Regions from separate parts of the Homo sapiens genome. Here region 1 is linked to region 2. Evidence: fine-mapped expression QTL. A gene starts in region 2. The other region holds a variant in brackets. All regions are shown on one strand. Distances are between the middles of the regions. Region 1 overlaps NRG1 (neuregulin 1). Region 2 holds the start of NRG1 (neuregulin 1).

Region 1 (5,381 bases), 27 kb after region 2:
TATATCTTAGCTTCTTCTCCTTATCTGAATGGGGTTCTAGTTCCCTTAGCATTCTCAGATAACATTCTGAATATTCTACTCTGTATATCCAGTTTGTTCATAGACCTCAAAATGCAGACCCTGCATGGATTATTCCCATTCTGCTGTCTGTCTTTATGAAACCTGCCAATACTTATTGCTAGATGAAATTCTACAGATGTTCCATGATGACTTATTGACTCGATAACAGGGATCTGCAAACATTTCTGTAGAGACCCAACTCTGCAGTTGTAGCACAAAAGTAGCCACAGACAATTTATGAGCAAATGAATGCAAGTGTGCTCCAATAAAACTTTATTTACAAAAACAGATGGTAGGCAGGATTTGGCTTATGAGCCGTATTTTGCTGACCTCTGCTCTATAATATTCCTTGAAGAGATACTATTATCCCAATATCCTGACATAAAATATATATCCTTACCATTTGCTGTAGCAATATTCAATTTTTCTTTACCTGGCGTTGCTTATGTTCTCCAGCCAGTTCTGTCTTTTCATTAGGAATCTGAGTTAGGATTTCTTAGAACTATGTATTTGGGTAAGTTTATCAAAGGCCTTTTTATTTTTATTTTTTATTTTATTATTATTATACTTTAAGTTTTAGGGTACATGTGCACAATGTGCAGGTTTGTTACATATGTATACATGTGCCGTGTTGGTGTGCTGCACCCATTAACTCGTCATTTAGCATTAGGTATATCTCCTAATGCTATCCCTCCCCGCTCCTCCCACCCCACAACAGTCCCCGGTATGTGAAATTCCCCTTCCTGTGCCCATGTGTTCTCATTGTTCAATTCCCACCTATGAGTGAGAACATGCAGTGTTTGGTTTTTTGTCCTTGCGATAGTTTGCTGAGAATGATGATTTCCAGCTTCATCCATGTCCCTACAAAGGACATGAACTCATCATTTTTTATGGCTGCATAGTATTCCATGGTGTGTATGTGCCACATTTTCTTAATCCAGTCTATCATTGTTGGACATTTGGGTTGGTGCCAAGTCTTTGCTATTGTGAATAGTGCTGCAATAAACATACATGTGCGTGTGTCTTTATAGCAGCATGACCTTTTAAAGATCTTAGGAGCATAATGCTGTAACCTCTCAAATTTAAACAGGATAGAAGATTTTATACATTACTAATCTGGTTGGGTAGATGCAATTATTCAAATTCCAAGTGGGTGAGACATTCCGTAATTATGTCTCTAATTTTACATTCTCCAGGCCTCATTTCCCTCTCTCATTTCATCAGGTCTTCAAAAGGCTTTTAATAAACTTACCCAAATATATAATTCTAAGAAATCTCAAATTCAGTGCTTGATCAGATCACTGTGTGGTATAGTTTGTATATTTTTCCCCACCCAAATCTCATGTTGAATTGTAATCTCCAATATTGGGGGTGGGGTCTGGTAGGAGGTGACTGGATCATGGGGGTGGATTTCTCATGAATGGTTTAGCACCATTCCTTGGTGCTGTCCTCATGATAATGACTAAGATCTGGTCATTTTAAAGTGTGTGGTCTCTCTCTCTTTCTCTTGCTTGCTCGCTCCTGCTTTCACCATGTGATGTCCCCCACTACTCCTTTGCCTTCCGTCATGATTGAAAGCTCCCTGAGGCTTCACCAGAAGCCTGGCAGATGCCAGCATCAGGCTTCTTGTAAAGCCTGTAGAACTGTGGGCCAGTTAAACCTCTTTTCTTGATAAATTACCCAGTCTCAGTTATTTTTTACAGCAATGCAAGAATGGCCTAACACAATGTGTAATCTTTGTTTCATAGAGTTTACACTACAGCTTTGCCACCTAACTCTCCTATGTTAGTACATAGAATTTCTGAACCTTCAATCCTGTTCAGAATGCCAGATTGTGAGAGAATCAGTTATGCTTCAACCTTGAAAGCATGGAGTTCTCTGCTTTCAGGGAACTCCAGATGACTCAGGAACAGAAGTAAACCCTAGACAAATCTAAAGCCAAACATAGAATAAAGCTGAACAGCAGATCATAAATCCCATTCCTTGCTCCCTAGGAATACCTCTTCTTCTAACTCCAGCTTCAGATTTTTCCCCAGGTTTCACAATTGACCTTTGTCTTAGTGTCCATACTGGTTGGACATACCCCTCTGGCATAGACATTCATGATAGGCATTGCCATTCTTCATGATATGTCATTCTTGGCTACTTCCTCTTTTTCTAGGATGCATGTTTTA[G/T]CTCACTTCATGTTCAATTGCCTTGTGGTTGGCCTACTTCTTCTTTCTCTTCTTTCCTACTTTTGTGGTTGCTTTATAGTTGACTAATTACTAGTTCATCGGCTCTGCTTATTGCCTAATACTATAAAAGTTCCCTTCCTGGAAGGGTTGGGGATGGGAAAGTGGGGGTGGGTGGTAGTAAAATTAACTAAACTTTGTAGTGGGCTGGAGATAGGGCATGAGTAAAGGAAAAGTTGTATTTTAGGACTGCTCAACTGCATGGATATTTATACTTTTTAAGACAAGCAACATTAACAAAGTCTGGATCTTAAAGTAGAGATCTACACTGGAGATAATAATATCCCTGTGGGCATTTAATGCTCATGGTTACCTAGAAAATAAGTATAAAGTAGGAAATTTTGAGAGAGTATTCTTGTAAAGATTAAATGGTGACACCAATGTAAGGCTTGAATGTTCTAATAAGGGTGAAACTTGGTCTGGGAATGGCAGTTCTTACACCTTTTATAATTCTTAACTGTTATTTTTTAGATCTGGTCATTTAAATCTGAGGACCCAGATATGCTAGTCTTATAGAAAGCACAAATTTAAAATGGGTTCTTTGTCTTACATAGCTCTAAAGTTTAGGAAAAAAGTATCTTCAAGCAACCTTCATAGGAATTCTCCAAAATAAATGTGTTCCTGATTAATATGTGTTTTATTTTTTAAAATTTATTTTTAATTAATTTTTAAATTGACAAAATTGTATGTATTTATGGTATACAACGTGATGTTTTGAAATATGCATACACTGTGGAATGGCTAAAGCAAGCTATTTAGCATACGTGTCATCATCTCACATACCATTTGTTTGTGGTGAGGACATTTAAAATCTACTCTCTTAGCAATTTTCAAATAATGTAATTATTTTAAATCAGTTGTTTAAATATTATGAAATTACTTTCAGCCCTTAGAGAATAGTCCATCTCACATGACACATAAAAATGGAAGGAGGTGTCTAGCTCAGGAGAAACTTTTTGGAATATTTGATTCTCTTTCCCTCATTTTCTCTTCTTTTTTTGTTTTTTAAAAAATAATTTTTAAACCCTGTATTGACTCCTGGCTATTATTTTGAATATGAGTGCTAACAATTTGAGCCTTGTAGATAACTATCCCAATGCCAATTGAACCATAATTTTCATTTGTCTCTTTCTACAAGATTCTGAATTTTTTCAGAAGTGAAATTAAGTCTCAATTCCCTATAATTTACCCAGGGCAATAAATCTTAAACATTTTTTCTTAAAAAAACAAAACAAAACATTTTTACTGGAAAGACTTTATGGGGTGGACATTAACTCTGTAAATGCCATATAACTTTTGGAGAGGGCTGCCCCTGGCACAGTGTAATATTTATGAGAAAGTTGTGCCCATACTAACCACCTGTATGAGAATCGCCTGCGATGCTTTTGTTTAAAAGGCAGATTCTTTTTTCCCTATATTTTTCTCTTTTTAAAAAAATAATTTCGACTTATATTTTATATTTATATTTATATTATTTTAAAAAATAATTTCAACTTATATTTTATATTCAACCTACGTATGCAAGTTTGTCATATGAGTGATATTGCGTGGTGCTGAGGTTTAGGGTACGAATGATCCCATCACCCAGATACTGAGCATAGTACCCAATAGTTGGTTTTTCAACTCCTGTTCCCTCCTTCCCTCCCTGCTCTAGTAGTCCCCAGTGTCTGTTTTTGCCATCTTTATGTCTATGAGTATTTGATGTTTAGCTCCTACTTATAAGTGAGAGCATGGAGTATTTGGTTTTCTGTTCCTGCATTAATTCGCTTAGGATAATGGCCTCCAGCTGCATCCCTGTTGCTACACAGGATGCAGTTTCATTCCTTTTTATGGCTACATGATATTCCACAGTGTGTATATACTACATTTCCTCAATGCAGTCCACCACTGATGGGCACCTAGGTTGATTCCATGTAAAAGAGCATATTGTTAGGCTTTTCTCTGAATTACTGAATCAGAGTCTTTCAATGGGTTCCATGAATATTTCATATTCATTTTAGTAAACTTGCTCAAGTGACTTATGTATACAGTTATAGGTTTGGGAACCTCTGGCCTGGGGAAGTTGTCTGCAACACCACTGACAGGTCCCTGTCCTGCCACAGACATTTCTGCTGTAACTCCATGCTTGCATTTTTTGGGAAAAACAAAGCAAGACAAAACAAAACTCATTTTGCAAAATGACACACAAAATAAAGAGGCTTCTGGAAAAAGTAGGGCTAGGTGAAGAGAATTCAAAACTTACGAAACTATAAACTGAACACCAACAAGAATAACAATGAACCTAATAAAAAACTAGCATAGTTATGGCTCTAACAACATTTATTCTCAACAACTTAGTTAAATCGTTGTACCCTTAAACCTTAACACTTTTTTTTTTTGTTTTTCGAGACCTTGGTTCTTGAGGACATTTTCTTCTAGCAGAAATCAGTATTAACTTCTTTATCCATCTCTCTCTTTTTTTTAAACTGTTATGTACCATCATTATAGCACTTCTTACAAAAATGAGGAGCTGTCTTTGTAACTTCATCTGTGCCATCAGCTTTTCCAGATAGTTTAACATAAAAGGAAGATGAAGTGGTTCTGGAAGCAAGAAAACCAGCCACCACTTGCAGTAAGGAAGGCAGGTCTATGGGCCTATTAGCTCATGGAGGTTTTTGTTTGCTTGTTTGTTTGTTTTTGAGATGGAGTCTCACACAGTCGCCTGGTCTGGAGTGCAGTGGCTCCATCTGAGCTCACGGCAACCTCTCCCTCCCAGGTTCAAGCGATTCTCTAGCCTCAGCCTCCTGAGTAGCTGGGATTACAGGCACCTGCCACCACGCCCGGATAATTTTTTGTATTTTTAGTAGAGACAAGATTTCAGTATGTTGGCCAGGCTGGTCTGGAATGCCTGACCTCGTGATCCACCCGCCTCAGCCTTCCAAAGTGCTGAGATCACAGGCATGAGCCACCGTGCCCGGCCAGATCTTTTTAAATAAGATCTTCATGTGTTATAATACTAAGGTTGTCTCTTTAATCACAAAAAGCCAGTCCTTTATTGCTTCAAATTGTTCATGTGCTGATATCATATGTCTATTGAGGTCTGACTTACTA
Region 2 (5,381 bases):
ATTTAAGGACAATATCAAATTCTTGATAAATCTCATAAATGTTTTAACTGTCCAAGAAATGGACATTTATTTGGTTAATCTTTTAGCTGGCCATAAATAATGTAATAAAACCCCTTAAAATTAACATTAAATAACATAAAGACCTAACGATTTTTAGAAAAAAACCTTTTTGGACTGAGCCTTGAATTTCCTGAGAATTCAGCTACAAGTGATAACTAAAATGTAACTCGAGAATCTGGATATGGTTCCAGAAAGGATTGTTGTCATGCAATTGCCATTTCATCATCTTTCCTTAAAGTCCCTTCAATATTTATCATTGCAATTTTTGTCCTGTCTTTTCCCCTCCATCACATCAAACCAAGGAAAAACAATTATTAAATGCTCATTTATACTCACCTCCCTCCCTTCATATTCATTCATTCCTCAGCCCTAAAATTCCTGTAGGAATCCTGCTTTTACGTTTTATCTTAAAGCCACCATAGTATCTGTAATCTCTTTTGTAGTCATGTATGCTTAATTTTGGAAGACTGTCAACTACCTCTTCAGGTTCATTCAAATGAAAATGTATCACAAAATCGTAGGCTCTTCCCCTATCTCACTGAAAAATTACTCTAAAAATGACCAGTAAGCTGTTTTGTTGAAGCAAAACATCCAGACCCTAAACAAAAGTAGCAGAATTACAACATTTCCATAGAAATGGATTTTGAGCTTCTTTTTTTTAATTGGGGAAAATCTTATTTTTTAAAAAAGAATCCCAGAATACATCTTTGCTTTCAGTCCTTCAATTCTAACATAATGCCATGTTAGAGAATATGTGGTAGTGTATACTAAGCCCTTATGCTGTCTCACATCCTTGGGACAAAATATCTGTTTTGAAAGGACTTCTCTGAATTTTGCTATTTCCTGCTTACTGAGCAGTGGCCCCCTCCTGGGAAAACAGAGTTATTTCAGCCAGTGTTCAGACTCCATCTTGCATACGTCTCTGTGGAATATTAATAGTGCTACTGAGATATATTCATCATCTTTTCTCTGCTTTTGCTGTCTTTATAGCCCAGTGAAATTTATATTTGGTGTTTGTAGGAAGGCTATCAGAAGCTACTTGGACATCAAACTTTTAAACTATAAATAATGATGGCAAGACTGCTAGGATATCTTTCCACAGTTAAACCCATTCAACAGAGTTTCGTTCTTATGACAGTGCAAATTAAACTAGAATAAAATTAGTGTGATTTTAGGACAGTTTTAAAGTGAACATATTTCCCTCCCTCCCTTCCCATCTACATATCAAGGAGACACTCCAGACTGCACTTTTATTTAAATTGCGGCCATCAGAAAATACCGTGAGAAGGTAGTGTGTAGGTAATGGTTCAGTTAGCATTGACCCCAGAAAATGGAAAACCAAGAGCAAGTCACTTTTAAAGTGAAGCAATAGATTTTGAATATGGATTGTTCCAACTCACCACTTCCCGACCACAACACAAGAGTATTTCACTGTAAATTAAGAGTCTAAGTTAACCACAGCTGTGGTATAACTCTGAGAATGTTTTCTCTACATGTAGACAATTCTGGATCCTTCCGTGGTGCCCGTTACCCTGGTCTTTAACTTTTGTCCTTTGCAGGGGAGGGGTCAATGCCTTCTTATTTCCTTGCTCTTTAGAATTCTCCACCAGAGGGAGGACAAGGGAAGGAGTAGGTTTCACGCGCAGTTCTGAGTAAAGTTTGAATCTGAGAAACCCCACATTCACGAATTAAGGATCTCCAGTTCTGTGTCTTTATTCTACCCCTCCCTGCCTGCTTTTCCACTCGGCAGAACTGAGTGACTTTCAGCGGCTGCAGTAATTTTAATTATTCTGAGTCGTGCTCCGAACTATGTTTTTTATCAGTTCCTCTGAAAATTAAGTTGTAGTAAGAGACGTAGTTTAAGGGCACCCCCTTAGAAGAGGCCAGGTTATTTTTTAAGGAAAAGCTGAAGATTTCTAACAGGCACTTACTAAACACACACACACACACACACACACACACACACACACGCACACGGCGCAGACCCAGCAGGAGAGCGCAACCTAGCATCTTTAAGGTTCGCTTAGCCCTTCCTGTGCACCTGGAAGGAAGCCTTATCTTAAACTCCCTTCCACCTAGAGTTTATTTTCGCCTGCGTGCGACAGGGCTTTTGTACTTAAGTGAGTTAAGGAATGAACCCCGAACTCTTCTGGGAAAGCCACCAACGTTCCCCCCGCACCCCTCCCAGGGTTCCTGACCACGGAGACTCTGCTTGGGGCACAGGTGTGGGAGTCGCAAACTTTTCTCTGCGCCGTCCTTTTCCGCGTGGAATGGGACGGAGCAGCCCTCCCAGGCGCTGCCTGGCTGCGGAGGGGAGCGGGCAGCGAGAGCCTCGGGTCTCCGCCTGGGTTCCCGGGTCTCCGGGGCGCTGGCCTCGGTCTCCGCGCAGCGTCCAGCGACCCCTGTCGGGGGTTCCCGGCAGCCGCGCCGCCACCCCCCGCCCGGCCAGCGCGGGAGGAAAAGGGGCTGCGCCCGGGAGCGCCGAGCCCAGGCTCCTCCCGGTGGCGTGTCCGCGCCTCGGGGTGGGGGTGTGGTGGGGAAGAGGGAGGGGGCGAGGCCAGGGGAGGGTGCGAAGGAGGCGCCTGCCTCCAACCTGCGGGCGGGAGGTGGGTGGCTGCGGGGCAATTGAAAAAGAGCCGGCGAGGAGTTCCCCGAAACTTGTTGGAACTCCGGGCTCGCGCGGAGGCCAGGAGCTGAGCGGCGGCGGCTGCCGGACGATGGGAGCGTGAGCAGGACGGTGATAACCTCTCCCCGATCGGGTTGCGAGGGCGCCGGGCAGAGGCCAGGACGCGAGCCGCCAGCGGTGGGACCCATCGACGACTTCCCGGGGCGACAGGAGCAGCCCCGAGAGCCAGGGCGAGCGCCCGTTCCAGGTGGCCGGACCGCCCGCCGCGTCCGCGCCGCGCTCCCTGCAGGCAACGGGAGACGCCCCCGCGCAGCGCGAGCGCCTCAGCGCGGCCGCTCGCTCTCCCCCTCGAGGGACAAACTTTTCCCAAACCCGATCCGAGCCCTTGGACCAAACTCGCCTGCGCCGAGAGCCGTCCGCGTAGAGCGCTCCGTCTCCGGCGAGATGTCCGAGCGCAAAGAAGGCAGAGGCAAAGGGAAGGGCAAGAAGAAGGAGCGAGGCTCCGGCAAGAAGCCGGAGTCCGCGGCGGGCAGCCAGAGCCCAGGTGGGTGCGCAGCGCGGCCCGGGCCCCACGATCCTCCTCCTGCTCCTCCTACTCCTCCTCCTCCTCGGATGCCGTGGCCTCTCCCTCCCCCTCTCCCTCGCCCGTCCTCTTCGCCCTGCGCTCTGAGCGCCCGTTGAGTCGCGCGGTGCTTCCCCTCCTGGGGGCCGCCGCTCACCTGGGCGCCGAGTCCTACCGGGCGCCTACGCCCAGAGCTCAGGGCAAGGGACAGCAGTCCCGGCCGCACCCTCCCAGAGTCCCGGGAGCGCTTCGCTCCCTGGCACGGCCCCTCCCCAGCGCCTTAGCGGCTGAGCCCAGCCCGGGAGTGGGACCTGGGCTATAGGAGTCGAGGCTGCGTGCGCGCGTGCCCCGCGCCATAAGCGCTTTGCACGGGGGCCGTGTGCCCTCTAGCGGGAAACGCTGGAATGGGCCGCCTGGAGGGAGAGCCGGTCCCCTCGGTGTGCCTGGCAGCGCAGAAGTGGGTGGTCGAGCAAGAGGCCGCGTGGGAAGTTAGCTTCGGCGTTTTGGGGCACAGGGCAAGCGATGTAGAGTGCGCGCCGGTTCATCTTGATTCAGTCCTGTGCTACGGAGACTCAAGAGCAGCGGCAGGGATTCCTAAAGGTCAGCGAAGCAGATGAAATCTAGTCCAGTGTCAGGAATCAGCTCTGCCCCAAACAAGTTCTACAAACTTTTGGCTTAACAGTTCTATTTTTCAAGACCTCTGTGATAAATATGGATAATTTACTTTCCCAAGAGATGTAAGAAAACAACCGTTTATCTGAATTTTTGAACCCAATTGTTTGCTGGTTATCTATATAATAAAATGGCAATTGAAGCTTTCTAGAAACAAATCTTGTATTTCATCATCAGAACACGAGCATGAACAAAAGCTTTACCTTAGATGTCCCTAGGAAGCGCTGATGCTTTGGACATTACCTTGGACAAAAGAGGCATGTCGAATAAATACTTGTTTATGAGTGATTGGTAGGTAGCTGATAAAAGAGGGGAGGAAGGAGATGGGGGAGAATTTATTTTTTGCCTCTGCAATTCCCAATTATTAATTGATCCAGATGCCTTAAGTCGCTTCGAGCGTACCCCCAACACACATTTCATGAAGCACTTCTGCAGAATTAATTCACTAGTACTTGATAATACTGTGGCTACAGTAATACTGTAGAAGTATTTGTCCCTTGCTGGAAGAAAACAAACCACATTTGCTTGGTCTTCTTACTGGTATCACTGATAGCATTTCAGAACCTGGGTTATTGGCAGAGACCTTCAGCAGAGTTTTGAGCAAAACAGAAATTGAACAGAGAGTAATTGTTTCACCACTGGCCATTCTTGTGCTTGCTTCTTTAATAAGATCCTGCTGATCATATTCACTTCAATTACTGATCATTGCCCCTCATGAGGGTGTATTGAATTTTCCCTTATTTTTACCCTATATTTTGGGGAGAGACCATAGCACTTTATTCAACAAGATAGGAAATTGGGGAGCTGGATTAGTTACCTCCCTGCGTGACTTTGTCTACTGTCCTTTCTAAGGTCATCATAGTACATTACGGAGATTTCAGACCTAGCTCAAATCGTTGTAAAGAGTTATTTTGGGGGCTCTTATCACTGTTTGTGGTTGTGTTCTCCTGTCTCCCTGCTCATTGGCTTCAGAAGAAGTTTCTGTGGTCCTCTGTAGATGGTCTAATGAATTAAGAAGGGGCCAGCGGTCTGAAGTAGCATCCTGTTCAGGTAATAGGTGTGCATTTTGTCAAGGGCTCCCAGCAGCAGTACCGTAACACAGCAACTTGACAAGTTCAGTGGGGGAGGGGCAGGCATTTCTGTGCCCTCCAGATCTCATCTACTAGGTAGGCAGCTGTCTTGTGATTAGCTACGCTCTCTTGACACAGAGCACCAGAGCTTCCTTGGTGGCTCTCATCTGCTTTCCAGTGGTACAGCAGTGATTCCCTGTAAACCAGCTAAGTCAGTATCTTTAAGTGACATTTGCTTAACTGTCTTCCCTGAAAAATTGGGGTGAATTTGGCTGTAGGTTAGTTTTTAGTATATTTGTCTCTGTTTTCCACCAGATTATAATCTTTTTTGGGGAGGGACTTTTTACCCCCTTCGAAGCATCTTGTGCTTTTTAAACCAGATAAGAATATG

Evidence for each region. PIP is the estimated chance that this variant, and not a neighbour inherited with it, causes the effect.
Region 1: its variant is fine-mapped to the expression of NRG1 in whole blood (INTERVAL, PIP above 0.99).

The regions. Positions count from the first base shown.
Region 1 is chr8:32,573,044-32,578,424 of GRCh38, forward strand. The region is part of intron 1 of NRG1 (neuregulin 1); the gene reads left to right. Among named protein-coding and RNA genes, the nearest start is that of NRG1, 27 kb to the left of the region's middle. The variant G/T (reference allele first, on the strand shown) is at 2,235.
Region 2 is chr8:32,545,597-32,550,977 of GRCh38, forward strand. It overlaps NRG1 (neuregulin 1), which reads left to right and starts at 2,715. Exons shown (of 12, transcript NM_013964.5): 1 at 2,715-3,230. The coding sequence starts at 3,131.